Linked DNA regions of Homo sapiens: all the other regions are reported to be linked to region 7. The links are microRNA targets in miRTarBase. Many come from high-throughput screens and were not tested one by one. Region 7 holds a microRNA gene; each other region holds the end of a gene's coding sequence.
The links. Region 7 holds the annotated microRNA hsa-miR-6501-5p (AGUUGCCAGGGCUGCCUUUGGU, at 1,197-1,218, shown strand). A microRNA usually pairs through its seed, bases 2 to 8, with sites in the 3' UTR of a target mRNA and lowers its output. Matches are read on the target gene's strand: a 7mer-m8 pairs with bases 2 to 8, a 7mer-A1 pairs with bases 2 to 7 and ends in A, and an 8mer does both.

Region 1: miRTarBase lists TKFC as a target of hsa-miR-6501-5p. Seed matches in the 3' UTR shown: 7mer-A1 at 2,678-2,684 and 7mer-A1 at 2,515-2,521.
Region 2: the mRNA of PSMD1 is a reported target of hsa-miR-6501-5p. The part of its 3' UTR that is shown has no 7-base or 8-base seed match.
Region 3: the mRNA of RNF170 is a reported target of hsa-miR-6501-5p. Seed matches in the 3' UTR shown: 7mer-A1 at 1,190-1,196.
Region 4: miRTarBase lists CISD2 as a target of hsa-miR-6501-5p. Seed matches in the 3' UTR shown: 7mer-A1 at 3,751-3,757.
Region 5: miRTarBase lists LAYN as a target of hsa-miR-6501-5p. Seed matches in the 3' UTR shown: 7mer-A1 at 2,856-2,862.
Region 6: miRTarBase lists ZNF546 as a target of hsa-miR-6501-5p. Seed matches in the 3' UTR shown: 7mer-A1 at 550-556 and 7mer-A1 at 918-924.

What each region holds. Positions count from the first base shown.
Region 1 is chr11:61,345,968-61,350,035 of GRCh38, reverse strand. TKFC (triokinase and FMN cyclase) reads right to left here. Exons shown (of 18, transcript NM_015533.4): 18 at 794-3,685. The coding sequence ends at 3,533. CYB561A3 (cytochrome b561 family member A3) reads left to right here. Exons shown (of 7, transcript NM_153611.6): 7 at 1-1,231. Among named protein-coding and RNA genes, the nearest start is that of CYB561A3, 14 kb to the left of the region's middle. RefSeq lists an enhancer at 4,059-4,068.
Region 2 is chr2:231,169,968-231,174,035 of GRCh38, reverse strand. It overlaps PSMD1 (proteasome 26S subunit, non-ATPase 1), which reads right to left. Exons shown (of 25, transcript NM_002807.4): 24 at 3,315-3,470; 25 at 1,209-1,501. The coding sequence ends at 3,324. Among named protein-coding and RNA genes, the nearest start is that of ARMC9, 27 kb to the left of the region's middle.
Region 3 is chr8:42,852,403-42,856,460 of GRCh38, reverse strand. RNF170 (ring finger protein 170) reads left to right here. Exons shown (of 7, transcript NM_030954.4): 7 at 33-3,160. The coding sequence ends at 302. Among named protein-coding and RNA genes, the nearest start is that of THAP1, 11 kb to the right of the region's middle.
Region 4 is chr4:102,887,066-102,891,131 of GRCh38, forward strand. CISD2 (CDGSH iron sulfur domain 2) reads left to right here. Exons shown (of 3, transcript NM_001008388.5): 3 at 276-4,066. The coding sequence ends at 365. It also overlaps a transcript of SLC9B1 not described here. Among named protein-coding and RNA genes, the nearest start is that of CISD2, 20 kb to the left of the region's middle.
Region 5 is chr11:111,560,130-111,564,197 of GRCh38, reverse strand. It overlaps LAYN (layilin), which reads right to left. Exons shown (of 7, transcript NM_178834.5): 7 at 2,453-4,068. The coding sequence ends at 3,740. Among named protein-coding and RNA genes, the nearest start is that of LAYN, 21 kb to the right of the region's middle. RefSeq lists a silencer at 1,900-2,194.
Region 6 is chr19:40,015,579-40,019,645 of GRCh38, forward strand. ZNF546 (zinc finger protein 546) reads left to right here. Exons shown (of 7, transcript NM_178544.5): 7 at 1-4,067. The coding sequence ends at 203. Among named protein-coding and RNA genes, the nearest start is that of ZNF546, 21 kb to the left of the region's middle. RefSeq lists an enhancer at 1-209.
Region 7 is chr21:33,549,468-33,553,522 of GRCh38, forward strand. It overlaps MIR6501 (microRNA 6501), which reads left to right and starts at 1,195; the gene lies at 1,195-1,261. It overlaps SON (SON DNA and RNA binding protein), which reads left to right. Exons shown (of 12, transcript NM_138927.4): 3 at 9-4,055.

The sequences.
Region 1 (4,068 bases), not on the chromosome of region 7:
ACGAGGTCCTCCTCGCTCTGGCCGCTCTTGCTGCTCCTGTCTGAAGAAATCAGACTGATTTCCTCTTAAGACTCCTAGGGATGTGGTGAAGAGCTGGGACTCAAGTGCAGTCCACGGTGTGAAACATGAGGGAGGTGAGGTGTCCGTCCACTTCCCCCATAAAGGTGTGCATTTCAGTTAGGCTGCCCCGCCACAGAGCAGGCTTCATCTGCTCTGCCATCCAGCCCCATCTGGATGTGAGGTGGGGTGGAGACATCATGGGGTGATTGCAGAAAGGGGGAGTGGCGGCCCACGCAGCTTCTGCTGAGGAGCTGACCGCTCTGAGCTGTTCTGTTTCGTATTGCTGCTCTGTGTCTGCATGTATTGTGACCGTGCGGCTCCACCTCTTCCAGCTGCTGCTACAGCTGAGGCCTGGATCCCGGCCTTTCCCTGTGACTTACGTGTCTGTCACCGGCAGGCAGCCCTACAAATCCTGGTGACCTGCTCTCCCAAGAACAGAGCCTGTCCCCAGATGTCCCAGTAGCGATGAGTAACAGAGGTGGCTGTGGACTTCCTCTACTTCTCCTTGCTGGATCAGGGCCTTCCTGCCTCCCGCTGGGCAGGTCTGGCCTTGCTCTCTTGGCAGGGCCCCAGCCCCTCTGACCACTCTGCAGCTCACCATGCAGCTGATGCCAAAGTTGTGGTGTCCAGTGTGCAGCAGCCCTGGGAGCCACTGCCACCTTCAGAGGGGTTCCTTGCTGAGACCCACATTGCTTCACCTGGCCCCACCATGGCTGCTTGCCTGGCCCAACCTAGCGTTCTGTGCCATGCTAGAGCTTGAGCTGTTGCTCTTCTTCAGGGGAGGAAATAGGGTGGAGAGCGGGAAGGGTCTTGCTCCTAAGTGTTGCTGCTGTGGCTTTTTTGCCTTCTCCAAAGACGCACTGCCAGGTCCCAAGCTTCAGACTGCTGTGCTTAGTAAGCAAGTGAGAAGCCTGGGGTTTGGAGCCCACCTACTCTCTGGCAGCATCAGCATCCTACTCCTGGCAACATCAGGCCAACGTCCACCCCAGCCTCACATTGCCAGATGTTGGCAGAAGGGCTAATATTGACCGTCTTGACTGGCTGGAGCCTTCAAAGCCACTGGGATGTCCTCCAGGCACCTGGGTCCCATGACCAGCTCCCCATCTCCATAGGGGTAGGCATTTCACTGGTTTATGAAGCTCGAGTTTCATTAAATATGTTAAGAATCAAAGCTGTCTTTGTTCAGGCTGCTATAACAAAAATATAATAGCCTGGGTGGCTTAAACAACAAGTGTTTATTTCTCACAGTTCTGGAGGCTATAGACATCCAAGATGAAGGCGCTGGCAAATGTGGTGTGTGGCAAGGGCCAGCTTCCTCAGAGACCATCTTCTCACCATAACCTCACATGGTGGAAAGGGCGTGAGAGCTCTCTGGGGCTCCACCCTCATAACCCCATCACCTCCCAAAGGCCCCACGTCCTAACACTACCATAGTGGGGGTGAGCCTTTCAACACAGGAATTTGGGGGGGACACAAACATTCAGTCTCTAATAACAGCCCTCTAATGAAATGATGCTGTGGTTAAATGAGTTCTGGGCCAATTTGTAAAAGCCTCAGGACAGGTCTGACCCTCACAGACCTAGGGAGGGGCCAACCGGAAGGCACCAAAGATCCACATGATCCTCTGTCTTCATGGAATGGCATGTGTGGATTCACATGCAGCTCATTTATGTGCGTGTCCTTAATAGCTAATGGCACGTGCTTATCTCACGAGGAAGGAAATTTTTCCTATTTCATAATCTGAGAAAACAAGACTCAAAAAGGGTGACTAGGTTGAGGTCACCCAGCCAGGAAATGACAGAGCTGGGATCCACAGGCCACCGTCTGAGGTCAGCCTCCTTCCCAGCTGCTGGGCGCATACTCCTGTGCACGTGGATGCCTTGTGGTCAGGGACGTATGGTGCAGCCGACAGACAGGACCCTGGGTAGAGAAGCCCAGGCACTCGGGGAGCCTGCAGCCAAATTTGGGCCAAGTAGGTGACGGGGGTTGGGAGGGCAGGAGGCTCTTTCCTACCAGCTAGTGGTAGAGCAGATGACCTGGGAGGGGCTGGGGGCCCAACCCCTGTGATAACCGTAACTCTCAGTGAGTGAGCACTTGGACTGTGCTGGGCTTTATGGCCCATCTTCATCAATTCATTTGAATCCTTTCATGTCCCCATGAGGTGGGTACCATTCTGATTTTACAGATCCCAAAGGGCTAAAAAATAGGCCTTAGCTCCTGTAGCCGGGTTAAAGCAGAATCAGATTTCAGATCATGTGTATGAGTCGACAGCCAGTGCCTTTAACCACTCCCTACCCTACATGTGTGCCAGGCATGTGCTGTTTGTCTCCACATGCATACAGTGCCCCTGCTCACCCTGGTGCCATCAGTGATCGCTCTAGAAAGAGACCTAGGGGCTGGCTTGGCTGCAGTTTCTTTTTTTTTTTTTTTTTTTTTTGAGACAGGGTCTCGCTTTGTTGCCCAGGCTGGAGTATAGTGGCATGCTTATGGCTCACCGCAGCCTCGACCTCCTGGGCCCAAGCCATCCTCCCAACTCAGCCTCCCAAGTTAGGACTATAGGCACACACTACTATGCCTGGCTAATTTTGTATTTTTTGGTAGAGACAGGGTTTTACCATGTTGCCCAGACTGGTCTTGAACTCCTGAGTGTAAGGGATCCGCCTGCCTTGGCCTCCCAAAGTGCTGGGATTGCAGGTGTGAGCCACCGTGCCCGGCCTGGCTGCATTTTTTGATCTACAACTGAACCTTAGACTATGATGATTTCTTTTCCTTCTGGTGTCCCAAATGCCCATTCGACTCCCGAGGAGCCACTGAATTATTAATTCAATGCTAAGAAAAGCCCCTCTACCATTCTTACATGCATCAGGTGTGTGTACTGGAAAGGGGATGGGTCGGGGGTCTCAGTGGAAGCAGCCCAGCTGAGGAGACACTGCCTTAGGGGCTCAGGTAATAAAGATCTGCCTGGTAGAAGATGGGTCATGATGCCTGCAGCCAGGGCTGTGGGCCCCCTTGTTTACATGCTTGGGAAAAGGTCCCTCAGAGGAGGCAGTGTCTTTCTTGCTTCCATGTATTATAGTTTATTAACTTTCTTTTTCACGCTCACTGGGGTTAAGGTGCGGAAAGCATTTCACAGGGAGTCTTAAAACCAAATTAGGATTGCCAGGTAAAGGCTGCACAAGGAAAATGCCTTATCTCTGAAGCCCAGAGCTGGCAGGGGAGGGCATGACCCAGGGACTCCACCCTCCTGCAAAGGGAAAGGGCATGCTGGAGAGGCATGGGGACCCACTCCAGCTCACTCTGGGTGCTGTCTGTAGTTCTGGAAGCTTGGTGGAGGATTTCCTGCTCAACTTAGAGGGTGGGCCAATGGGGCCAGGCCGGGGGAAGGTGAGGGTTGGAAGGCAGAAGGAAGTGACAAAGGCCACCTCAGCACAGCAGTGAGAGGAGCTGAGGCCAAGGGAGGCAGTCACACACCCTAGCTCTGCAAGACCTCCAAGATGGCCCGGAGGATGGCAGCAGCTGCCACCGCCCCGGGGTCTGGCTGCTCCAGCCGTGCTGAGCTGATATAACTGGCTCTTCCGGCTCCAGCTTCCATATTCTTGGTGGCCTCGGCTGCAGCTTCGGCACTCTGGGGGATGGGGTGTGGGAGCAGGTTCAAGGGCAGATCACCAGGCCGCCTCCTTCCTGCCATGGGCAGAACGTCTCTGCCGTGCAGCCTGGCCCTGCACGCCCTTGCCCTGGCTCTGCCAGCACCCTCTGCTCTGTCACCAAATGGAAAGTCACTTCTCATCTACTTCCAGCAGGGAAAAGGGTCACCATTCACTGAGGCCCTGTCACATCCCAGGCAGTGTGCGGGGCTCTACATATTTCCTTAGCCACATAACCACCTTCTGAGATAGGTGCTCATCTCCATTGTACAGAGAAGGAAACTGCGGTCCAGGAAGGTTATTAACTTGCTCAGGGTCACATGGAGACAGGAGTCTGCTGGCTAGAAGCCTGTCTCCCCAGGTG
Region 2 (4,068 bases), not on the chromosome of region 7:
GCCAGAACATGAGGAGATGGTGTAGTGGTCAGAATATCAACCCTGACTGCTTATTCTAAAAGCCTAGCATCCAAGAAAGGCTTGATAATCTAGAAACAAAAATTGTACTTGTCAAAATTCATTATCCTGTATATACCTCAAATGTCTGCATTTTATTGCTTTTAAATTATACTTTAATTTTTAAAAAACATGAAAAAAAGATTGGAAAATGAGAAAGGAATAAAGGTACGTTATCAGATCCTGTGGCTAAAGGAAACTAAATAAATTTTATCTATTAACAGGATCAAAAGCAAAAAACAATAAGCAAAGGTTTAACAAAAAAGCTTCTGAGCTGCCTAAACACACAATTCCCTTGGATTATGAAAGGGACTTCAGTAAGTGATGACACCCTCTATTCGATTAAAAAATTGTAGTTCAGGCGGCTAAAGTGGGAGGATTGCTTGAGCCCAGGAGTTTGAGACCAGCCTAAGCCTAAGCGACAGAGTGAGGCTCTTTTTTTTTTTTTTTTTCCAGACAGGGTCTTGCCCTGTTGCCTAGGCTGTTGTGCAGTGGTGCACACACAGCTCACTGCAGCCTCAACCTCCTGGGCTCAATTGATCTTCCTGCCTCAGCCTCCTGAATAGCTGTGACTACAGGTACATACCACCCTGCCTGGCTAATTTTTTTTTTTTCAGAAACTGTCTAACTCTGTCACCCAGGCTGGAGTACACTGGCACAATCAACCCTCACTGCAGCCTCGACCTCCAAGCTCAGGTGATCCTCCCACCTCAGCCTCCTGAGTAGCTAGGACTACAGGCACGTGCCACTGTGCATGTCTAATTTTTTTTTTTTTTTTGTAGAGGTGAGTTTTTGCCATGTTGCCCAGGCTGGTCTCAAACTCCTTGGCTCAAGCAATCTGCCCACCTTGGCCTTCCAAAGTGCTGGGATTATAGGCGTGAGCCACCCTGCCTGGCCTACCCAGCTAATTTTTCAATTTTTTTGTAGAGATGGGGGTCTCACCATGTTGCCCTGGCTGATTAGACCCCATATTAAACAACAACCCACAACCACAACAAAACTGTAGAGAATTCTTGGGGGTGATGAGCAAGGTTTGATTTTTTTCCCTTCCATTATTTTCATGGTCTATAATTTAAGAATAGTTTGACTTTTTCATCAATATGAAAGTCGTGCATACTCATCCTAGCAAATCAAGACTCTGGCTCTTGGGATTTAGGCATTTCATGGTGTGGGGAGGATTAGATACATTTATTAAAAACCCAGGCTGAAAAACAAATGTCTTGTCCATCTGGAGATCTTATATTTATTTGAAAACCAAGTTCTGTGAAAGAGCACACTCAACAGTCATATATCTTCTCTTCAACCAAAGACTTGGAGACAGGGTTCTTCAGGTCAGTGCAGAGGCAACGATACATGCATTGAATAGCAGGTCTCGGCATGAATTTCCTCATAAGCATTCCCAATATGAGCCTGGACAATCTTCTTCAGATAAGCAAGTGAGATCCTGGGAAAGGGAAGAAAGAACAGTAGTAGCTAGGGTCATTCTTAATTTCAAGACATTCTTTTTTTTCCTCTTTACTATTAACTGTTGAAATCTAAAACTAGGCCCCAACCCTGCCTCTGCAGTCCTAATATACCAGTTTGTGCCACGACAGATTATAGTTTCCAAACTCCTAATGGACTGAATATTTTACCCCTTTGAAAACTAACAAGATTCCAGTTTCCAGCTATAAACCTCTAAGTCATTTTGTAATTAACTGCCTTGAAAGCTGTAATCAAGGGTTTTCCATGAGGTATTGCCAAAGGCTTGATGGGAGCTAACGTGAGTCACCTCAATTCTCAGACAGACTGAGTGATCATGATAGCCTACGCTGTACTGTGCAAGTTGGGTAAAGCTTAGGAAACTATCAAGGCTGAAAGATAATTTTCAAAAGTAAGTTTAGAAAATAGGAAGGTTAGTATAAATCTGCCTTTCTCTAAGGCCCAAACTAATAGTCTTCCTGAGGTATAAATATATTTTCCTACTAATGGCAGGTTTCTACCTTAATATTTATCTGAGATTTCTGCAAATCTTTCCTAAATTGCTAGTCAGTATCTAACACACAGCATGCTAGATTTGCAACCAGACCTTTAAATATAACAAATGATACTGTCCTTATTTTTTTTAAAGAGTAGAATGAATTGGCCGGGCGTGGTGGCTCACACCTGTAATCCCAGCACTTTGGGAGGCCGAGGTTCGCGGATCAGCTGAGGTCCAGAACTTGAGACCGGCCTGACCAACATGGAGAAACCCTGTCACTACTAAAAATACAAAATCAGCCGGGTGTGGTGGCGCATGCCTGTAATCCCAGCTACTCGAAAGGCTGAGGCAGGAGAATCGCTTGAACCCAGGAGGCGGAGGTTGCGGTGAGCCAAGTTTGCGCCATTGCACTCCAGCCAAGAGCAACAAGAGCGAAACTCCGTCTCAAAAAAAAAAAAAAAAAAAAAAATTGTCTGAAAACGTGTTTGTGCTTGGGTGGAATTAGGAAACCTTGATTATGTCTCACAATGTCTTCAAATATGTGATGAACACTCAAAAGAAAATGGGGAAATGAAGAACGACAATTTCATGAAATTAGATTACTCCAAACTTTCCCATCTAAAGACCCCTTTCAACACTGTTAAGACACTGATATAGTAAATGATCTTTGTCAATGGACACAGCCTTGTGGTTAGTCTAACTGACCTCAAAGTCCCTATAAGCACTATGTCTTATACACAGTAGATATTCAATAGCACCATCATAGAATGAATGAATGTTAAGGCTTCTATGCCAAAAATACTGTCGAAGGAGATGGGGAGAGAGAAAAATCAGTGAGAAGCCTATATTTGTGCTACTCAAAAGTGTCACCTATGGGCCAGTGCCAGTCCACAACTATAACTGATCCACAACAAGAAGCTTACATCAGAATGTAAATCAGCTCTATCACTAAGCAAACTGCAGTTCAGCTGATGTTTTGGGGAAGACTTTCTTGATGAAAGAAGCGTTGAGCAGACAGATTCTGGAGTAAGCTTCCTATCTCCTTATGGACCTATAAAAATAGTTTGCAGACCAGCCACTTTGAATAACGTGAGTAGAGTACGAGTCAAAGAGGAAAGAAAAAGGAATTTGTGGTTATATATGCAGAAAAAGGTTGAAACGGGGAAGTTTTAATACTGTTTAGGTAAATAAGGATTAAACACAAAAGGAAGGAAAAACGTGAGATGATGTCCTTGCAAAAAACATTTGTGAAGTATTGACAAAGAAGTTTCCCTTCATAATTTTGTTGCACACGCACCTCTGGCCCTTAATCATCAATATACTCAAATGGTTCTGGGGGTTCTGGCTCTTGTTCCTCCTCCTCGATTTTTGGGCCATGTGCTGCCACAGGTTCCACCAGCTCCTCAATGTCTTCACTGGTATCCTTCAGAATGATGATGCCTCCAATAGAGAGCTGGAAACACAGGGGCGTGCAGAAGCGTACACTCATATTTCAAGCGTGCTCCACAATCTAGAGTAAATACTTGTTAAATGGTACTTTAAAACTACTTAAATGATTTGGAAGTGAAAAACTGGAGTAGAACTTTACTGGGATAAAGATAACTGTGATCTATACGAAGTATTTGCAAACTTAACCCAGTAGCTCTAGATGGTATAACATGTGATGCTGTTCTACTTGGATGATGCATCCCAATTTAAGAATAGTTATTTCCCAGCCATGGCCTTGACTACCAGCCTCAGTCTCACTGCAGGAAGAATGTTTACTGTCCAAATATAGTATCCTAATTCCTTCCTACTCAAGATATGGTCCTGGGCCAGAAGCATCATTATCATCTGGAGCTTGTTAAAAATGCAGAAAAGCTGGCCCCACCCTAGATCTGCAGAATCTGCATTCTAACAAGATCCCAGTCAATCTGATGCACACTGAAGTTTGAGAAGCAGTCTAATGCACACTGTATGATTTGTGAGATGATAATCATTTTGAACACGAGAGTGTATAAATTAAAAGCCAATTTTTTCTCCAGCAATTTCAGAATGATGGAGAGAATAAC
Region 3 (4,058 bases), not on the chromosome of region 7:
TGAATCATAATACTTGTTTTTCCCTCTACCAGATTATGGAGAGAATTATGGATCTACCCACTTTACTGAGGCATGCATTCAGGGAAATGTTTTCAGTCGGGGGCCTTTTCTGGATGTTTCGCATCAGGATAATACTTTGTTTAATGGGAGCTTTTTTCTATCTTATATCACCTCTAGATTTTGTACCTGAAGCCTTGTTTGGAATTCTAGGCTTTCTAGATGATTTCTTTGTCATCTTTTTATTGCTTATCTACATCTCTATTATGTATCGAGAAGTGATAACCCAAAGGCTAACTAGATGAAAAAGAAAACAAAACTGAGTTTACTAGGATATCTGAGCTAATGTAGAACATCAAACAGAAGGACCCATGGCAGTATAAAGCAATGAAGCAATGGAGTATTATCTCACAAATATAAAACCACTATAAGACAAACATTTGATTATCATTTGACAAATACCTAGGTATAACTGGAATTTTCATGTTTGAAGTTCTAATATTAAGTTTAGAATTATAATGATCTACAGTTGTATCTTGATTCTATGTTGTCTGGAAAAAATATGGAATTATATAAAAAGGGATGCTTTTATATATTTTTCTTTTCCCCAGAATTACTTAGATTAATTAGATGTATAGTAAAATATTGTTAAATGTCAGTTTATCCATCTTATCCTTCTCAGCAGGTACCTATATGATAATATATAGCTGTGAAACTCATCTAAATATTTTTGTTCCAATAAAATATTATATACTATTGGGGAAAATTCAGTATTTCTTTTAGTGCTAGCTAAGTTTTGTGCATTTGGAGCAGTTCTGCCTTTTCATTCTGGTATAATTAATTATTTGCTATCAGCTGAAACTGAAAGAAGAAACTTGAACTTCATACTTCGATATCATATTCTAGTTTACAGAACACATTTTAATCAATAGAAGAATTAAGATGAAAAACATGGCCGGGCGGGGTGGCTCACGCCTGTAATCCTAGCACTTTGGGAGGCTGAGGCGGGTAGATCACAAGGTCAGGAGATCAGGACCATCCTGGCTAACATGGTGAAACCCCGTCTCTACTAAAAATACAAAAAATTAGCCAGGCGTGGTGGCAGGCGCCTGTAGTCCCAGCTACTCGGGAGGCTGAGGCAGAAGAATGGCGTAAACCCAGGAGGTGGATTGCGCCACTGCACTCCAGCCTGGGCAACAGAGTGAGACTCCCTCTCAAAAAAAAAAAAAAAAAAGATGAAAAACATTTATCTCCAGTCAGCACACTTGATGTTCACAGTTAGACATTTAAACAAGAGCTCATCCTTTCGTAGTAGATATAAAAGTAATTTGTAAAGGGAAGATTGTTTTAGGAACCTGGGCGATGCTGCAAACACAGAGTAGCCTGATGCATTTCTGAGGAAGGTGAATCTTCGTGTCTTTGAGCATCAAGCCAATAGGAAGGTACTGGGAACGGTATTTACATTTGACAAAAGAAATTACTGGTTAGCTATAGCAACAGATTGGACAAATTTTGTTAGTTTTCTGTTGTCAGAAATTTTTATAATACTGTCTCAGGATGGCAGCACACAGCTCAGATTCATGTCTTGAGCCAAACAAGTGAATGTATCTGAGAAGACTCAGTACCACATGGTACTGGGAGATCTTACTCACTTCAGCTGGCGTTGCTCATTAGTGAATGTATGACAGCAGGATGTGAGGGGATGCCCAGGAGTCAGTGTTAGCATTGTCATCTGAGATCACTGCTATTAATATCATCCATTAATTTATTAGTGAGCTTCACTATATGCAGACTGGGAGATAAGGAGAAAATCTGTCACATTCTCTCTAGCTAATCAGATCAGCTACCAATTAATGAGATTCTGAATGAAATATCAATATGTGTTTTTCTAATTTGGACCTAGGACAGAGCTGTTGCTTGTCATAGAGAAAAACAATAATGCTTAAACATAGCACATTATAATTAAAGCAGGTTTCTCACATACTTTTCATTTTATCCTTTGGATAATTTTGTGAGGAACGCAGGACACCAACTTCCCTTTCATAGATACAATCCCCATGCTATTGATGAAAGTGTTTTTGAATGAAGTCATACAACAAATAACTGATCAAAGTGGCATTACACCAAAATTTCTTAGTAGGACTCCTGCATAGAATGTTTAGATAGACGTGAAAGTTGTTAAGAGGAACAGCAAGAGAGAAACTGGTTCTTTGGAAGTCTTTCGTGCTACATTATACCTCCATCAGAGTAAGACAGCTTAGGCACTCCTAAGAGGAAAGGTCTGTGGAGATGACATGAATCCGAATTCTACACTTCCAAATCAAATAGGTAAAAGGGTGGCATACATCACAGAAAAACATTTCAGCTGCAGTCACCAACTTGAAAAGCGAGTGAGTAGGAGTTTGTCACACTGCCATGTACCAGACTGGAAATGCATTTCCTACCAATTACACATTTGGTGTGGGGGAATGGTGATGTCATTTTTTGACAGGATTTTATTTTGTGTGCATGCATTCTGCTCCAAGTGTCACAATTCTGGTTACAATAATTATAATATTTGGAGTTACTACTAAGACTTTCCTGAAAGAGGTGTATTGTACCAAATTTTGTAACATAAAAAAATACTAAATGATCTTAAAGCTTCCTAAATTGTGAAAAGGGTATGTGCTAACATCTCAGAACTTTAGACCTGCTTGTTGTCATCTTTACCGATCTCTGATGATAAATGCAGAAGGGATCTGAGAGTTTTTAAAGCAAGTAGAGTCAATCAGAGTTTTGAACATCATAGTAATACTTCCGTGATTCAGAGTTAGATCATATAAATCAAAGTAACAATTTGGATTTTTTTTAAACAACAATATCATAACTGTCATAAAACAGATGGTCCAACCCCAGGAGCAGATAATAACTTGGGCAGCTCTGTGGGGAACAAGACGGGGAAAACAACTGTTCTAACTGCCCACTAGAACAGTGGTTTCAACTACTACAATTCTCAGTGTTTGAGAGGTACAAGGGAAGAAAGGACTATGTGGATCCCTTGTGGCTATGCAGATACCTACCTCACAGAGTTGTTGTAGAAGACTGGTGGTTTGGTTCAAACCTTGTGATTAAAGAGTTTGTCAAGCATTTTATTCTTTTGAATAAAAGCAACATATCTAAAACATTTTAAAGGTGTTATTTTTCTGTTTATTTAACAGTTGTTTGCTTTCAGAACTCCTGAAAGAGCATTCAGTATAATGGTTGCAACGGCTTTATCACTAATGGACATCCAATATCTCATCACATTTCTAATTAATTTTGTTAGGTTTTTTATTTTGTTTGTGTGTTTGTTTTTTGGTCAGAGACAGGGTCTCACTCTTGCCCAGGTTGGAGTGCAGTGTTACAATCATAGCTGACTGCAGCCTCGAATTCCTGGGCTCCAGTGATCCTCCTGTCTCAGCCTCCCAAGTAGCTGGGACTATAGATGTGTGCCATCACACCTGGCTAATTAAAAAAAAAAAAAAAAAAGTTTGTAGATACATGGTCTGGCTGTGTTGCCCAGGCTGGTCTAAAACTCCCAGGCTCAGCCTTCCAAAGTGCTGGGATTACAGGTGTGAACCACCATGCCCAGTGCTGAAAATTATTTTTCTATTAAGCAAATAAATTAATTTGCAGACCACAGTGAAAATTTAGTCACGGAGATGTTTTACAAAGAAAAATTCAACATTCAGTTCAATGCAACAAATTTTGTTTTAAATTATATGAAATTCTGCTGGACGCAGTGGCTCACACCTGTAATCCCAGCATTTTGGGAGGCCAAGGCGGGCAGATCACAAGGTCAGGAGTTTGAGACCAGCCTGGCCAACATAGTGAAACCCCGTCTCTACTAAAATACAAAAATTAGCCAGGTGTGGTGGCACGCACCTGTAGTCCCAGCTACTTGGGAGGCTGAGACAGGAGAATCGCTTGAACCTGGAAGGCAGAGGTTGCAGTGAGCTGAGATCATGCCATTGCACTCCAGCCTGGGTGACAGAGTGAGACTCCATCTCAAAAATTAAAAAAAAATAAATGAATAAATAAAT
Region 4 (4,066 bases), not on the chromosome of region 7:
TCGATTCCCTTTTAAACCTGTTGTCTATTTTAATCACTCATATGGACTCATTCATAGGTTTTTATTTAAAATCTAAACCAAATAATGAAGTAACTGTTTAAATTGTTAGATTTTGAATATGGTTCAGTTGGATGTAGAATGTAACTATTACTCAGGAAAACGATCTGATTTTTTTTAGCAAGTGATATGCTTTCTTTCTGAGAGCATTTCACAAATGTTTCTACCTAATGAATCATATTTTAAAAATAACACTTGTAATTCTTTTTTCTTTTTAGTTTCCTGCCTGCGATGGTTCACATAATAAACACAATGAATTGACAGGAGATAATGTGGGTCCACTAATACTGAAGAAGAAAGAAGTATAATAATAATAACAATATTTTCTCATTCTTTGTGTATAGAAAATTTTAAAATGGTGGTCTTAATTATTACTACTGGTTGAACAATTATTTCTTCCAATTTATTTTCTTCCTGCACTACTGTTTGTATTTGATCCTTTGTCTATTCAGTCACTTAATTAGAAATTAAATTGTCAAGCCTCTTATTCTGACTTCAAAGAATTAATGTATCTTCCAACAATAAAATCACTTCTGATTTTAATCTAGGAAAACCTAAATTGTGGCTATGGATCCAAAGCTGTTTGTTTCTTTGAATATCAATATTTTCAACAGGATCTTGTATTTAAAATTCCCACCTACATTGTTAAATATGTTATTTTTTCATATCTCTTTTGGTTTTGATAATCTGAAGTGTTTTTTTCTCGTTTTGGCCTTCCAAACTGCATTTGGTTAGGTGAATTAAGAAAAATATTGCCATCAAGAATTACTTGTGTTTTCACAGAGATAGACTCTTTGCTTTATAGAGATTGTTGTGTATTTAATATGAATATCCCAGCTTTAGAAAAGAAGTAAACTGGATACAAAAAGTTCCATTGAGGAACAGTTATTTACAGTATAAAAGATTTGTTTACTTTACAAAAGGCTTGTGTCTGTGTGTGTGTGTGTGTGTGTGTGTGTGTATTTTAAACTGACTCAGTGACAGCTGGGGTGGAATGGCAAGAACACTTACAACCAAACTCATGGGCTGCTGCAATTTGAAGATAATTGGTAATAAACATAAGACATTAATTCATATTAAAATAGTTCAGTGTTCAAAATTGTGTTTATGTGGATATTTTTCTCTTTTTAACACTATAAACCATTAAAATACAGTCATCCCTTGTATACGCTAGGGACTGGTTCCAGGGCCACACATATACCAAAATCTGCCCATACTCAAGTCCCACAGAAAGTCTTGCAGAACCCATATGTAGAAAAGTTGGCCCTCCAGTTGACCCTCCGTACACATGAGTTTCACATCCCATGCACAAATGCTGATCTGTGTGACCTCACCTGCATTTGATTGAAAAAAGTATGCGCGTAATTGTACCCACCCAGTTCAAACCCGTGTGTAAGGGTCAACTGTACAAAAAAGTTTGTGAAATAAACGTACTGGAGAATCTTTAAAATTTTTGTGCTTTTTAATCCTACTATTATGAATCTTTTTAGTTTCATCTTACATTACTACTCTCATAATAGCTATCCTTAGCCAGGTGCCATGGCACAGGCCTGTAGTCCCAACTGCTGGGAAGATTGAGGTGGGAGGATGGCTGCAGTACAAGAGCCCAGGAGTTCAAGGCCAGGCTGGGCAACCTAGTGCTCCGCCTCTGCTGGGCTCTGTAGGGAATCCTTTCTGTTGTAAAAGAGTTACCATTTAACTCCCTTCACTGAGTGCGTTTCTGAGACCTTGCTAGGCACTCTGGAAACTGCTTAGTTGAGAAAAGACAAATACAAAAGCTTTTCTTTAGTCTATTTAAGATACAGTTTATTCAGTTCACTTTGCTTTCTTTTTATAAGAATGTACAAGAGGCAGACAGAGGTAATCCTTCTAGAAATAAAACTAATTGTTATTGGGCACTTGTATGTACCAGACACTACACTAAGCATGGTACTTGGGTTTTTAATTTATTACATGTAATGTCAGTAGGTTCAATTATATGATCGTAACATCTTCATGACCAGCAGCATGTATTTTAGAGTTAGAAATGTAGTCTGGTTTTTGAGAAGTTTTACAAGGTGTATGTCCAAAATTGTTCTTTCCTCACATGTCAGTGGGGGATAAATACAGCATTGCTCTCACTTCTTTGACTCTGGGTGCTTTTTCGGATACATTTTCTTCAACACTGTTAAGGGGCCTCACTGTCAGATTAACCAATTATTTTTCCACAGTTGGTCACCAGACTTTGGAAAAAATCCACCTCACCAAAATTTTGGATATCCTGATCTGTGTTCATGAAATGCTCTTCTTTTTGTAAAATCTATCACTGCATCTCACAGCAACTTGTTTTCACACATGTTCTAGTGGTTCCCATAACTTAGATTTTACAGGAGGCAAATTTACTAAAAATGAGGAGACTAAAATGAATGACCAACTTTGAATTTTGTCAAATAACATTGAAAATGAATTATCTCATAAAAGGTAATTTTAATACCCCAAAAGTAAGATGGTTGTACTCTCAGAATAAAGACTTTTTCCCTGCCACATTTTCAGTTGTTAAAATATGCTAAGAGCTATGCCCATATCTTTTCCCACCTGTGCACATTTTTCAGAAGCGTAGGGTTGGTAGTAAGCTGTTGCTTTAATAACTCCTTTAAATAAGCATTATTAGCAGTTTGCATTACTTCTTGTAAATTTACACAATTTTATCTTGTCCATCTTTAAAAAATAGACATCTAATAACCAAATGTATTTGAATTGATGCAGTGTAAGTAACTTGTAGAACTTGAGGATAAGTGGTAAAAGAAAAAAAAAAGTAACTTGGCTCTTGAAATACATGTCTTCGGTTTCTAGAGCCTTCAAAATACAGCCCTGTTGTTACTGCGTCACATGATTGTTTTGAGGACTGCTTCTGCTTACCTAGGAAACTACTCATGCCTTACTCAGCAAATGAACATCACTATTACATAAACATCAGGTATCCAAAAGTGTTAGCAGGCTTGAGGTATGAATGATTCATTCATATGGGTAATTAAGCAAGTTGAATTATGGAAAGCACCTCACAATTCACACAATTCAGCTTTGAGTTCAATGCCAAATACGATGATTCATTAAGTTGACTTTGTATTTTGTAACCTAATTTGTTAATAAGTAAGTTACAGGAAGCCAATTAAGCCAGCTGCTGATCTATATAGTACTACCTTCCTCATTGTGATTCCATAGTCTTCCAATAGAAATGTGCTGTCAGAATCTGTATAGAGAGTTTGTAAATGCCACTATTTAACAAGGTTCTTAAGAATTTAGGTGGATGTTTTATTTGATACCTACCAAAGAAGCCTAAGTAATTGTATAATACTTAACCCATTTAGAATTCAGTTGTGGCAGCATAACCAATCTGGAGAGACCAGGGGAGATGTTACTAATGCTTGTACTTTATTCAGAAATGAGTGCCTCATTGGCTTGGTGCAGTGACGACACACCTGTAATCTCAGCACTTTGGGAGGCTGAGGTGGGTGGAGTACTTGATCTCAGGAGTACCATACCAGCTTGGGCAACGTGGTGAGATCTCATCTCTACAGAAAAATGCAAAAATTAGCCGGGCACAGTGGCGCACCAGTAGTCCCAGTTACTCGGGAGGCTGAGGCACAAGAATCTCTTGAGTTGAGGAGGCCAAGGTTGCAGTGAGCCAAGATTGTGCCACTGCACTCCAGCCTGGGCAACAGAAGTGAAACCCTATCTTAAAAAAAAAAAAAGTCTTTTTTTTTTTTCATCTAATCAAATTTATTGTGGCAGAAATCAGTACGAAGTTCGTAGGACAGGAGGAAACCAATATAAATATCTCAGCATTGTAGGAAATTTAACCCATGGAAAGCAGGGGTGAATTAAAGACCACTTTGAAGGCTGGGAAAAGCAGATAATTTAGATATAGTCAAAGTATGAAATCATTGATAGATCCAGAACAAGGAAATGATGTATGTGTTTACATATTACATCTACTTTATTAACAATTTTCCCTCTGTTAAACTAATAT
Region 5 (4,068 bases), not on the chromosome of region 7:
TGTTCTTTGGAAGAAAGAAGGAAGGGGCTGTACAGAATAATTGGCTTTGTTGCTTCTCCATCTCTGGGCTTGCAGTTTCCTAGACCTTATTTGACACTTCTGTCTTCAGTTTGCTATCCACCATTAGGTGTGTCTTACTACAAGCTCAGAAGTAATGTGGGCATAACATGCTTAACAAATTAGAAAAAGAATCATATTGAATAATTTTAGAACTGGAAGTCACCTTAGATCACACAACCTATTTGCGTTCTCACAGGGGAGGGATGGGAAACTGTGGAGGAAAGGAATCTCCGGATTCACTTCTGTGGGGTGGCTCACATGGCTCCCTGTAGCCTGCAAGGAAATGACAAAGGTGGGGTTTGGGGTCCTGGGCCTGAGCCTGGGGCTTGGGTACTGATTGACAGCTTTACTAATGATTTATTTTTATCTTGGATCAGAGGCTTTTAGATGCTCTCAACTCCAACATCATGGCAAACCCCTGTGTGCTGAGCTTAGATGGAAGGTGTGCTGCAAGTAATATGTTACCAACCATTCCAGTACCTGTGTTTGCAGATGCTGTTCCTTAAAGAATTTCAAACTAAGAAAAGTTGCAAATACAGGAGGTGGAGGCTGCAGTGAGCCAAGATCGCATGACCCTGCACTCCAGCCTAGGGAACAGAGCGAGACTCCGTCTCAAAAAACAAACAAACAAACAAACAAACAGGAATGCTTGTCGAGTAAAGAGACCAAAGTGGTTGTCTGATACATACATTTTATCTGTCATGTGTGTCACAGTGGAAAAAAAGGTTGGGAAATACGGTTTTAAATGGTTGTCTTCGTCCATTTCCTATTGCTTGTAACAGAATACCTAAAACTGGGTAATTTATAAAGAAACAAAATGTATTTCTTATAGTTCTGGAGGCCGAGAAGTCCAAGGTTGAGGGGCTGCATGTGGGAGCGTCTTTTTGCTGGTGGAGACTCTCTATAGAGTCCTGAGGCAGCGCAGGGCGTAACACGGTGAGGGGCCTGAGGGTGCTAGCTCAGGTCTCTGTTCCTCTTCTTATAAAGCCACAAGTCCTACTCCTGTGAAAACCCATTAATCCATGAGGGCAAAGCCCTCATGACCCAATCATCTCTTAAAGACCCCACCTGTCAATACTGCCACATTGGGGAATAAGTTTCTACATGAGGTTTTTTTTGTCTTTTTTTCTTGGTTGGTTTGTTTTTGAAACAGGATGTCACTTGTCACTCCGGCTGGAGTGCAGTGGCATGATCAGAGCTCACTGCAACCTTGACCTCTGGGCTCAAGTAATCCTTTCACCTCAGCTCCTGCATAGCTGGGACTATAGGCATGCACTACCACACCCAGCTAATTTTCTTATTTTTTGTAGAGACGGGGTCTCGTTATGTTGCCCAGCCTGGTCTTGAACTCCCGGGCTCAAGCAATCCTCCTGCCTCAGCCTCCCAAAGTGCTGGGATTACAGGCATGAGCCAACATGCCTGGCCAACCTGAGTTTTGAAGGGGGCAAACATTCAAATCATAGCAATTATGAAACAAACTTACTAAATTTCCATATGATACTAGCTTAATGAATAAGCTCAAGCTCAACGGGAACATAGCAAACCCTTAACATTTAGCAAATATTTGTTACATAAGTGAAGTGCAATTATTAGAGATAGAAATGGAGTTGGGTAAACTCAGGCTAGTAAACCTGAGGAGGAAAAAGAAAGTGAATAATTAAAATGCAGGGTAAGACTGGCTGTGTACAAACACAGAAGAGATCTCTAGGTCCCAGAAGAGACAACACATTAATGAAAAAAGGGAAGGGAAGATGCTGAGGGTCTGTTCTGATTACAACCTTACTCCCTTTATAGATTAACAGTGGGTCCTCAGTTCAAGCATGAGTGACATAAAGTAAGTTGTTAGCACAATTCACCAGCATCTGTTTACTTGTTACTATGCTTCCTTCTTGGGAGGCATTCCAATTACAATGACTCAGTTACCTCCTCCACCTAGGGGGACTGTGAAAAACAAACTTTTAAGCTGAAATATTCAAACTATTTGACATCAGTCTGAAAAGATGCATTGTTCATCCATTCAATAGACATTGATTGCCTACCCTGCAAGGTGCTGCCATGGGTTGCAGGACCCATGATGCTGACCGGCAGATAGGATTCCTACTAGCGAAGCTTGCAGTGTAATAAGGGCCAGAGTTGTGGGGCACAGTGCAGGATACAGGGCAGATGATAGAGCGAGGCTGTCTGAAGCAAGAATGGAACCTTGGGCATTTTAGAGCAGTGAATCAGTCCTTCAGGACCATGTGCTCAGTTTTTGCTTGAAATGTAACCACAAAACACACTTCCCAAAACAGGGAGTTTTGTTTCCTAGTATATTCAGTTCTGCAGTAGGGCAGATAATTTGGCAGGGATTCCAATCCACTACATTCGATACTGCTTTGACCCAGACTAGTTAACTCTAGAGGTTGGGGCTCCATATGTGAAGCAAAGTTGCTGAGCTATTAAAAAATAAGACATATGAGGAAAGGTTAAAATATGAGATTATGAAGCTGATTGAGGGAAATTGCTGGTGATTTAAATAATGGCTTTCAGACCTCCAATGTGTATATGATTGATGCTGGGCTGAGAAACTTTTCTCTGAATTTGAGGCCAAACACAATTGAAACAATGAGGTCTGTCAACAAAAGGTAGAACTGTCATCATTATTAGTCATGTTATGTTGATGCTGCAGTAACAAACATGCAAACAGAACAACGTGTAGTATCAGGGATGGGAGTACATAAGCCTAGAAGCTGAGACTCAAATTTCATTTTTAGTTTCTTTAAAAAATATTTTTGTTTAGAGACAGGGTCTCATTCTGTTGCCCACGCAGGAGAGCAGTGGCGTGATCCTAGCTCACTGCAGCCTCAACCTCCTGGGCTCAAGCAATTCCCCCACCTCGGCCTCCTGAGTAGCTGGGACTGCAGGCGCATGCCACCATGCCCTGCTAATTTTTAAATTTTTTGTAGAGTCAGAGTCTCACTATTTTGCCCAGGAAGGTCTGGAACTCCTGAACTCAAGCTATCCTCCAATCTTGGTCTCCCAAGGTTCTGGGATTACAGGCGTCAGCCACTGCGCCTGGCCTCATTTTTAGTTTTGCAAGTAGTTAGATATTTCCAAGTCTGGATGTCAGGAGAAACAAAAAAAGGTCCCCTGTGGCCACATGCAGAGGAAGGGCTGTAGACACAGACTAACACTCTGTTTCCTGCTCTTTATTTGATTTTATTATTCTTTGAAAAAAACAGATATGAGAATTGCCGATGCACAGGCCAGCCTGTGCTACCATATGTGGGCTTTGAAAAGATTCTGGATTTTCTGTCTGTATGATAATATGTGCTGCTGTATAGAGCAAGGAAAACAGAGGTGGTTTTCCAAGCTCCACAGCCCATCTTTATCACTGCCAGGTAAAGCTCTGTCCCTTAAAAGTTAGATACAACCAACCAAGTGACATTTATTGAGACTCTACTATGTGCCAGACCTGGGCAAGGTACCTTCTCATAAGGTCGAGCTGGATGACTGGCTGGGATAAAGGATACAGCCAAAACGTGGGGGTCCAACAGGAGGTCGTGGGGACCACATGCTCATCCACAGGACCTGATCTAAGCTTGTTCATAGACCTTCTGTGTATTTTCCTTATAGAAAATAAGAGGATTTTGCTTATCATTTCTTTTCCATTGTTGTCAGTTTCAGTTTTTTATATGTCCTAATAACCATATATTTCATTTTCCACCCATCCAGACTCCTTACTCCTCCCCATTTGGTCTGGGGAGAACTCATAAATGTCATTGGTCACAAATCCACTCTCCACGCTCACCAGAGTCACAAACCCACTTTCTGATGGGTTCACAGCCATGTTGTCATAGTCACAAGACATGTCATCGGGAGTGGCTTCTCCCGAACACACTCGGAATGAAATATTCTTCAGGTCTGGCCGGGTCTCAGCTAAGTCAGCTTCGCTTTGTTTTCTTATGACATTGTAGACCTCTAGGTCCGGGCTGTTTCCCTGGTGAGGAGAGGGCCAGATGGTGTGTT
Region 6 (4,067 bases), not on the chromosome of region 7:
TTCACACGGGTGAGAAACCCTATAAATGTAAAGAATGTGGGAAAGCCTTCAGTGTTAATTCAGAACTTACTCGACATCACAGAATTCATACTGGTGAAAAACCCTATCAATGTAAAGAATGTGGAAAAGCCTTTATTCGTAGTGATCAACTTACTTTACATCAGAGAAATCATATTAGTGAGGAAGTCCTATGCATAATGTAAAGAGAATACGATGGCCTTTAGAAAATGCCCTTTAGCAGAGAATTTGTAATTTAAGAAATTTTCTGTTTGTTACGGAACATGTGGGAATCCCTTTTACTTCATGCTCACAATTTATCAGAAATTATTTCGTATGTTAAAGAGTCGAAAGACTATAGCATCACTCAGTCCCTGTTAGACTTTAGAAGATTGATACTGATGCACTGCATCCCAAACCATCAAGGGCCTTTTCCCCTACAAACTGTTGTTGAACAGTGCTTCTCTAAAATGCAATAATAATGGGCCAGGTGAAGTGGCTCACACCTGTAATCCCAGCACTGTGGAAAGACAGGAGTTCGAAACCAGCCTGGGCAACATAGTGAGACCCTGCCTCATGGCTTTAGTGAGCCATGATTGTGCCACTGCACTCCAGCTTGGTGACAGAGTGAGATCCTGTCTCTAAATAAATAAATAAAATGCGGGCCAGGCACAGTGGCTCACACCTGTAATCCCAGCACTATGGGAGGCCCAGGTGAGCAGATCACCTGAGGTCAGGAGTTCAAGACCAGCCTGGCCAACATGGTGAAACCCCTTCTCTACTAAAATACACAAATTAGCTAGGCATTGTGGGGGGTGCCTGTAATCCCAGCTACTCAGGAGGCTGAGGCAGGAAAATTGCATGAACCTAAGTGGCAGAGGTTGCAGTGAGCTGAGATCGCACCACTGCACTCTAGCTTGGGCAACAGAGCAAGACTCTGTCTCTTAAATAAATAAATAAATAGATTACCAGAAAAATGAAAAGAAAAAAACAGACATACAAAATAAAAGCCCCAGTTTTTTATTATGGTATTTAACTGAGTTAACTCTGTCAGATTGCTGCAAACATTTCTAAATACTTGCTCTTGGTATCTATAACTTTTGCAGAGACCAGAAGCAAACAATTTGTGGGCCAGTGTCAACACATGGACCACACTTTATATAGCACTGTAACGGAAAATGATTCTGTTAATGTAATGAACATGGGAAAGACCAGCCTTGGCCTATCTTTATGATATATATAAATAATATAATTCTCATAATTCCACCTCTGCCTATGTGGTGTTTGGCAAAACATGCCCCTGTGCCTTGGTTTTTAAAATGGTAATAACAGTACCACCTAATAGTATTTTTGTGAGGATGAAATGCTAATAAAAGATAAAACCTTTAAAAGAGTATTTGGCACACAGCATTTTATCAATAAATATTGCTTTATTTTTTTCATTGGGGATACATTTAGTACATTCATGTGAGAGGAAGGCCCTGTGGGTGTAAGAAATTTGTAAAAACTGTCCATTACCTTTCACTCCTTATTTAGATTGGAATAATTAACTGGAGATAATATCCAGTAAAATAGATTAAACTTCCATTTATAAAGTCAGAACCTATCTCTGAAAATTAATGTGAGAAAGAAATCTCTAGATTTGATGGGTGTGAAGATTATGAGAGTAAAGTTTTGAAGACTCAGGGATAGCTGTAATGCTTTTTTCTTTTTATAACCCAAAAAGCAGGTATGTCAGTCGCTTTTTCTGCCCACAATGATAAATTAAAAACAGCCACTATCCATTTGGAAAACTTAAAAGAATAATGAACAGTTATGTTCTATCTAGATTCAGCAATTGTTAATATGTTGTCACATTTGGTTTGCTTATACATAATATTTACATATTTTGCTGTAGTATTTGAGTATAAATTGCAGATACTATAACACATCACATCTAAGAATAAAGGCTGCCTCCTACTTAATTGCTATATAACAATTGTCCAACCTGTCTGTGCCCCAGGGCAGCTTTGAATGCAGTCCAACAGAAATTTGTAAGCTGTCTTAAAACATGAGATTTTTTTTGTGATTTTTTTTAAGCTCATCCGCCATTGTTAGCACATTTTATGTGTAGCCCAAGATAATTCTTCTTCCAGTGTAACCCAGGGAAGCCAAAAGATTTGACCCCCAGTAACTTCACACCTAAGGAGATTAGCAATAATTCCATAATCTGTAATATTCAGTCTGTGTTCATATTCTCAGTTGTGTTCATTCTTTTCATTTGTGTAAACAATGCTTTTCATAGGTTATTTTTAAATTCAGGAACCAAATTCATGAATTACATTTGTGCATTGTTCGTCTCTTTTAAAGTAAGAATGGCCCTTCCCCCCACAACTTTATTGCAACATTGACTTTTTTTTTTTTTTTTTTTTTTTTTTTTTGAGATGGAGTCTCTGTCGCCCAGGCTGGAGTGCAGTGGTGCGATCTTGGCTCACTGCAAGCTCCGCCTCCCGGGTTCAGGCAATTCTGCCTCAGCCTCCCCAGTAGCTGGGACTACAGGCGCCTTCAACCATGCCCGGCTAATTTTTTGTATTTTTAGTAGAGACGGGGTTTCACCATGTTAGCCAGGACGGTCTCGATCTCCTGACCTGGTGATCTGCCCGCCTCAGCCTCCCAAAGTGCTGGGATTACAGGCATGAGCCACCGCACCCGGCCTTCCCAAAGTATTTTTAAATGTGCTTTTTTATCCCCAGTATTTCCCATTAACTGGAATTTGGGATTAGAGACCCAATTAGGGACAGATTAAATATTTTGGCAAGAATACTTAATGGGAGAAATTTTGTATTTCAATTTGTAACCCATTAGGTGGCATACAATGTCATTATACCACTATGGTATCCTTAGTTCATTCACTTGGTGTAGCAGAACATACATTCCAAAGATGGCCACACCAATATATCCCATTCTGCATGTTCATCTTACAATGTGATACCAACACTCCCCAAGAGGTAGAGCTCATGGTCCTTCCTTTTGAATCTGGCCAGGTGGGCCTGTGTTTATGGCAGGAATAACACTGTGATTTCCACGACTAAGTCATAAAAGGCAATACAGCTTCTGCCTGACCCACTTGGGATGAAGCCCAGCCACCATGCTATGAAGATGCCAAGTAATCACATAGAAAAGCTAAGTAAAGCTGTCCTGATTACAGCTGTAATTGAGGTAACAGCCGGGATCCAGCACCAAGTGTATGAGGGTATGAGCCTTCAGATGATTCTAACCCTTAGCCTTCAGGCTATCCTAGCTGGTGCTAAGTGGAGCAGAGAAAAGCTTTCCCCCATGAGCCTGCCCAAATTGCAGATTTACGTTTAAAATATGGCCTGTTTTAAGCCACTAAGTTTTGGAGTAGTTTGCCACACAGCGATAGGTAACTGAAATACTTGCTTCATATGGTAATCACCAGGTTTCTCTGTTGTAGAGCTAAATATTTCTTTTAATTTAGTAAACGATCTGTAGAGTAGTACTTTGGCATTTCGGAAATTTAAAATCTCCAATAATATAATGACACTAGATCAAAAAGAAAATGAAACCATAAAGGACAATTTAGAAATGAATGGTAAGATCAGAATTTGTGAATGTGGCCAAACCTGTGCTCAGTGAAAAATCAGTAACCTGTTAATATATTCAGGAAACAAATATTGAGGGCCAGCACTTTGTTTCTCCTGCTCACCACTCTACTCCCAGTGACTTAATACTGTCTCTTTAACATAGTAATCACTTATAAAACTGTTAAAAGAATGAAGAAGCATTAAACTCAAGAAACTAAGGGAAAAATAAGTCAATATAAGAAAGAAGGGAGGATCATTAAAAGGAGTTAATGAATTTGAAAATAAAATAGACTTATTAAGGCTTTGTGAAAAAATATTAATACTTGATTTTAGTATAGCTAATCAAAGGAAAAAGATAATTACAGCATTGTGAATGAGAATTGGATGTAAGTACAGATGGAGGAGATATTTTTTGTTTTATTGAAAATTTCAAGGAGGAAGTAATATCAAAATTTCACTAGCTCTTTCTACACTGATATTATAATC
Region 7 (4,055 bases):
ACTTTTAGACTTGAAAGAGGGCTCCAGAAAAAGTAGATGCGTATCTGTACAAACAGATCCTACTGATGAAATTCCCACTAAAAAGTCAAAGAAGCATAAAAAGCACAAAAACAAAAAGAAGAAAAAGAAGAAAGAAAAGGAAAAAAAATATAAAAGACAGCCAGAAGAATCTGAGTCAAAGACGAAATCTCATGATGATGGGAACATAGATTTAGAATCTGATTCCTTTTTAAAGTTTGATTCTGAACCTTCAGCTGTGGCGCTGGAGCTTCCTACAAGAGCATTTGGCCCATCTGAGACCAATGAATCCCCTGCAGTTGTGCTAGAACCTCCTGTAGTATCAATGGAGGTATCAGAGCCACACATCTTAGAAACTCTGAAGCCAGCTACAAAAACTGCAGAACTGTCAGTTGTATCTACATCAGTAATCTCAGAGCAGTCAGAGCAGTCTGTGGCAGTAATGCCAGAACCATCCATGACAAAGATTCTGGATTCCTTTGCAGCAGCACCAGTGCCTACTACAACACTGGTGTTGAAGTCATCTGAGCCAGTTGTAACAATGTCAGTGGAGTATCAGATGAAGTCTGTGCTGAAATCTGTGGAGAGCACATCTCCAGAGCCATCAAAGATCATGTTGGTAGAGCCCCCAGTAGCAAAAGTGTTAGAGCCTTCAGAAACCCTTGTGGTATCATCAGAGACACCTACTGAGGTGTACCCTGAGCCAAGCACATCAACAACAATGGATTTTCCAGAGTCATCTGCAATTGAAGCGCTAAGATTGCCAGAGCAGCCTGTAGACGTACCATCGGAGATTGCAGATTCATCCATGACAAGACCGCAGGAGTTGCCGGAGCTGCCTAAGACCACAGCGTTGGAGCTGCAGGAGTCGTCGGTGGCCTCAGCGATGGAGTTGCCGGGGCCACCTGCGACCTCCATGCCGGAGTTGCAGGGGCCCCCTGTGACTCCAGTGCTGGAGTTACCTGGGCCCTCTGCTACCCCGGTGCCAGAGTTGCCAGGGCCCCTTTCTACCCCAGTGCCTGAGTTGCCAGGGCCCCCTGCGACAGCAGTGCCTGAGTTGCCAGGGCCCTCTGTGACACCAGTGCCACAGTTGTCGCAGGAATTGCCAGGGCTTCCAGCACCATCCATGGGGTTGGAGCCACCACAGGAGGTACCAGAGCCACCTGTGATGGCACAGGAGTTGCCAGGGCTGCCTTTGGTGACAGCAGCAGTAGAGTTGCCAGAGCAGCCTGCGGTAACAGTAGCAATGGAGTTGACCGAACAACCTGTGACGACGACAGAGTTGGAGCAGCCTGTGGGGATGACAACGGTGGAACATCCTGGGCATCCTGAGGTGACAACGGCAACAGGGTTGCTGGGGCAGCCTGAGGCAACGATGGTGCTGGAGTTGCCAGGACAGCCAGTGGCAACGACAGCGCTGGAGTTGCCGGGGCAGCCTTCGGTGACTGGGGTGCCAGAGTTGCCAGGGCTGCCTTCGGCAACTAGGGCACTGGAGTTGTCGGGGCAGCCTGTGGCAACTGGGGCACTAGAGTTGCCTGGGCCGCTCATGGCAGCTGGGGCACTGGAGTTCTCGGGGCAGTCTGGGGCAGCTGGAGCACTGGAGCTTTTGGGGCAGCCTCTGGCAACAGGGGTGCTGGAGTTGCCAGGGCAGCCTGGGGCGCCAGAGTTGCCTGGGCAGCCTGTGGCAACTGTGGCGCTGGAGATCTCTGTTCAGTCTGTGGTGACAACATCGGAGCTGTCAACGATGACCGTGTCGCAGTCCCTGGAGGTGCCCTCGACGACAGCGCTGGAATCCTATAATACGGTAGCACAGGAGCTGCCTACTACATTAGTGGGGGAGACTTCTGTAACAGTAGGAGTGGATCCCTTGATGGCCCCAGAATCCCATATATTAGCTTCTAACACCATGGAGACCCATATATTAGCATCCAACACCATGGACTCCCAAATGCTAGCGTCCAACACCATGGACTCCCAGATGCTAGCATCCAACACCATGGACTCCCAGATGTTAGCGTCTAGCACCATGGACTCCCAGATGTTAGCAACTAGCTCCATGGACTCCCAGATGTTAGCAACTAGCTCCATGGACTCCCAGATGTTAGCAACTAGCACTATGGACTCCCAGATGTTAGCAACCAGTTCCATGGACTCCCAGATGTTAGCAACCAGCTCCATGGACTCCCAGATGTTAGCAACCAGCTCCATGGACTCCCAGATGTTAGCAACCAGCTCCATGGACTCCCAGATGTTAGCAACCAGCACCATGGATTCTCAGATGTTAGCAACCAGCACCATGGACTCCCAGATGTTAGCAACTAGCTCAATGGATTCCCAGATGTTAGCATCTGGCACTATGGACTCTCAAATGTTAGCTTCTGGCACCATGGATGCTCAGATGTTAGCGTCTGGTACCATGGATGCCCAGATGTTAGCGTCTAGTACCCAAGATTCTGCTATGTTGGGTTCAAAATCTCCTGATCCCTATAGGTTAGCTCAGGATCCTTACAGGTTAGCTCAGGATCCCTATAGGTTGGGCCATGACCCCTATAGATTAGGTCATGATGCTTACAGGTTAGGACAAGACCCTTATAGATTAGGCCATGATCCCTACAGACTAACTCCTGATCCCTATAGGATGTCACCTAGACCCTACAGGATAGCACCCAGGTCCTATAGAATAGCACCCAGGCCATATAGGTTAGCACCTAGACCCCTGATGTTAGCATCTAGACGTTCTATGATGATGTCCTATGCTGCAGAACGTTCCATGATGTCATCTTACGAACGCTCTATGATGTCTTATGAGCGGTCTATGATGTCCCCTATGGCTGAACGCTCTATGATGTCAGCCTACGAGCGCTCTATGATGTCAGCCTACGAGCGCTCTATGATGTCCCCTATGGCTGAGCGCTCTATGATGTCAGCTTATGAACGCTCCATGATGTCAGCTTATGAACGCTCCATGATGTCCCCAATGGCTGATCGATCTATGATGTCCATGGGTGCTGACCGGTCTATGATGTCGTCATACTCTGCTGCTGACCGGTCTATGATGTCATCGTACTCTGCAGCTGACCGATCTATGATGTCATCTTATACTGCTGATCGTTCAATGATGTCTATGGCTGCTGATTCTTACACCGATTCTTACACTGACACATATACAGAGGCATATATGGTGCCACCTTTGCCTCCTGAAGAGCCCCCAACAATGCCACCGTTGCCACCTGAGGAGCCACCAATGACACCACCATTGCCTCCTGAGGAACCACCAGAGGGTCCAGCATTGCCCACTGAGCAGTCAGCATTAACAGCTGAAAATACTTGGCCTACAGAGGTGCCATCATCACCATCTGAAGAGTCTGTATCGCAGCCTGAGCCTCCTGTGAGTCAAAGTGAGATTTCGGAGCCTTCAGCAGTGCCTACTGATTATTCAGTGTCAGCATCAGATCCCTCAGTTTTAGTATCAGAGGCTGCTGTGACTGTTCCAGAACCACCACCAGAGCCAGAATCTTCAATTACGTTAACACCTGTAGAGTCTGCAGTAGTAGCAGAAGAACATGAAGTTGTTCCAGAGAGACCAGTGACTTGTATGGTATCTGAAACTCCCGCCATGTCAGCTGAACCAACTGTGTTAGCATCAGAGCCTCCTGTTATGTCAGAGACAGCAGAAACATTTGATTCCATGAGAGCCTCAGGACATGTTGCCTCAGAAGTATCTACATCCTTGTTGGTTCCAGCAGTAACTACTCCAGTGCTGGCAGAGAGCATTCTGGAGCCGCCAGCCATGGCTGCCCCAGAGTCTTCAGCTATGGCTGTCCTGGAGTCTTCGGCTGTGACCGTCCTGGAGTCTTCGACTGTGACTGTCCTGGAGTCTTCGACTGTAACTGTCCTGGAGCCTTCGGTTGTGACTGTCCCGGAGCCTCCTGTTGTGGCTGAGCCAGACTATGTTACCATTCCTGTGCCAGTTGTTTCTGCGCTGGAGCCTTCTGTGCCTGTTCTGGAACCAGCGGTGTCAGTCCTTCAACCTTCTA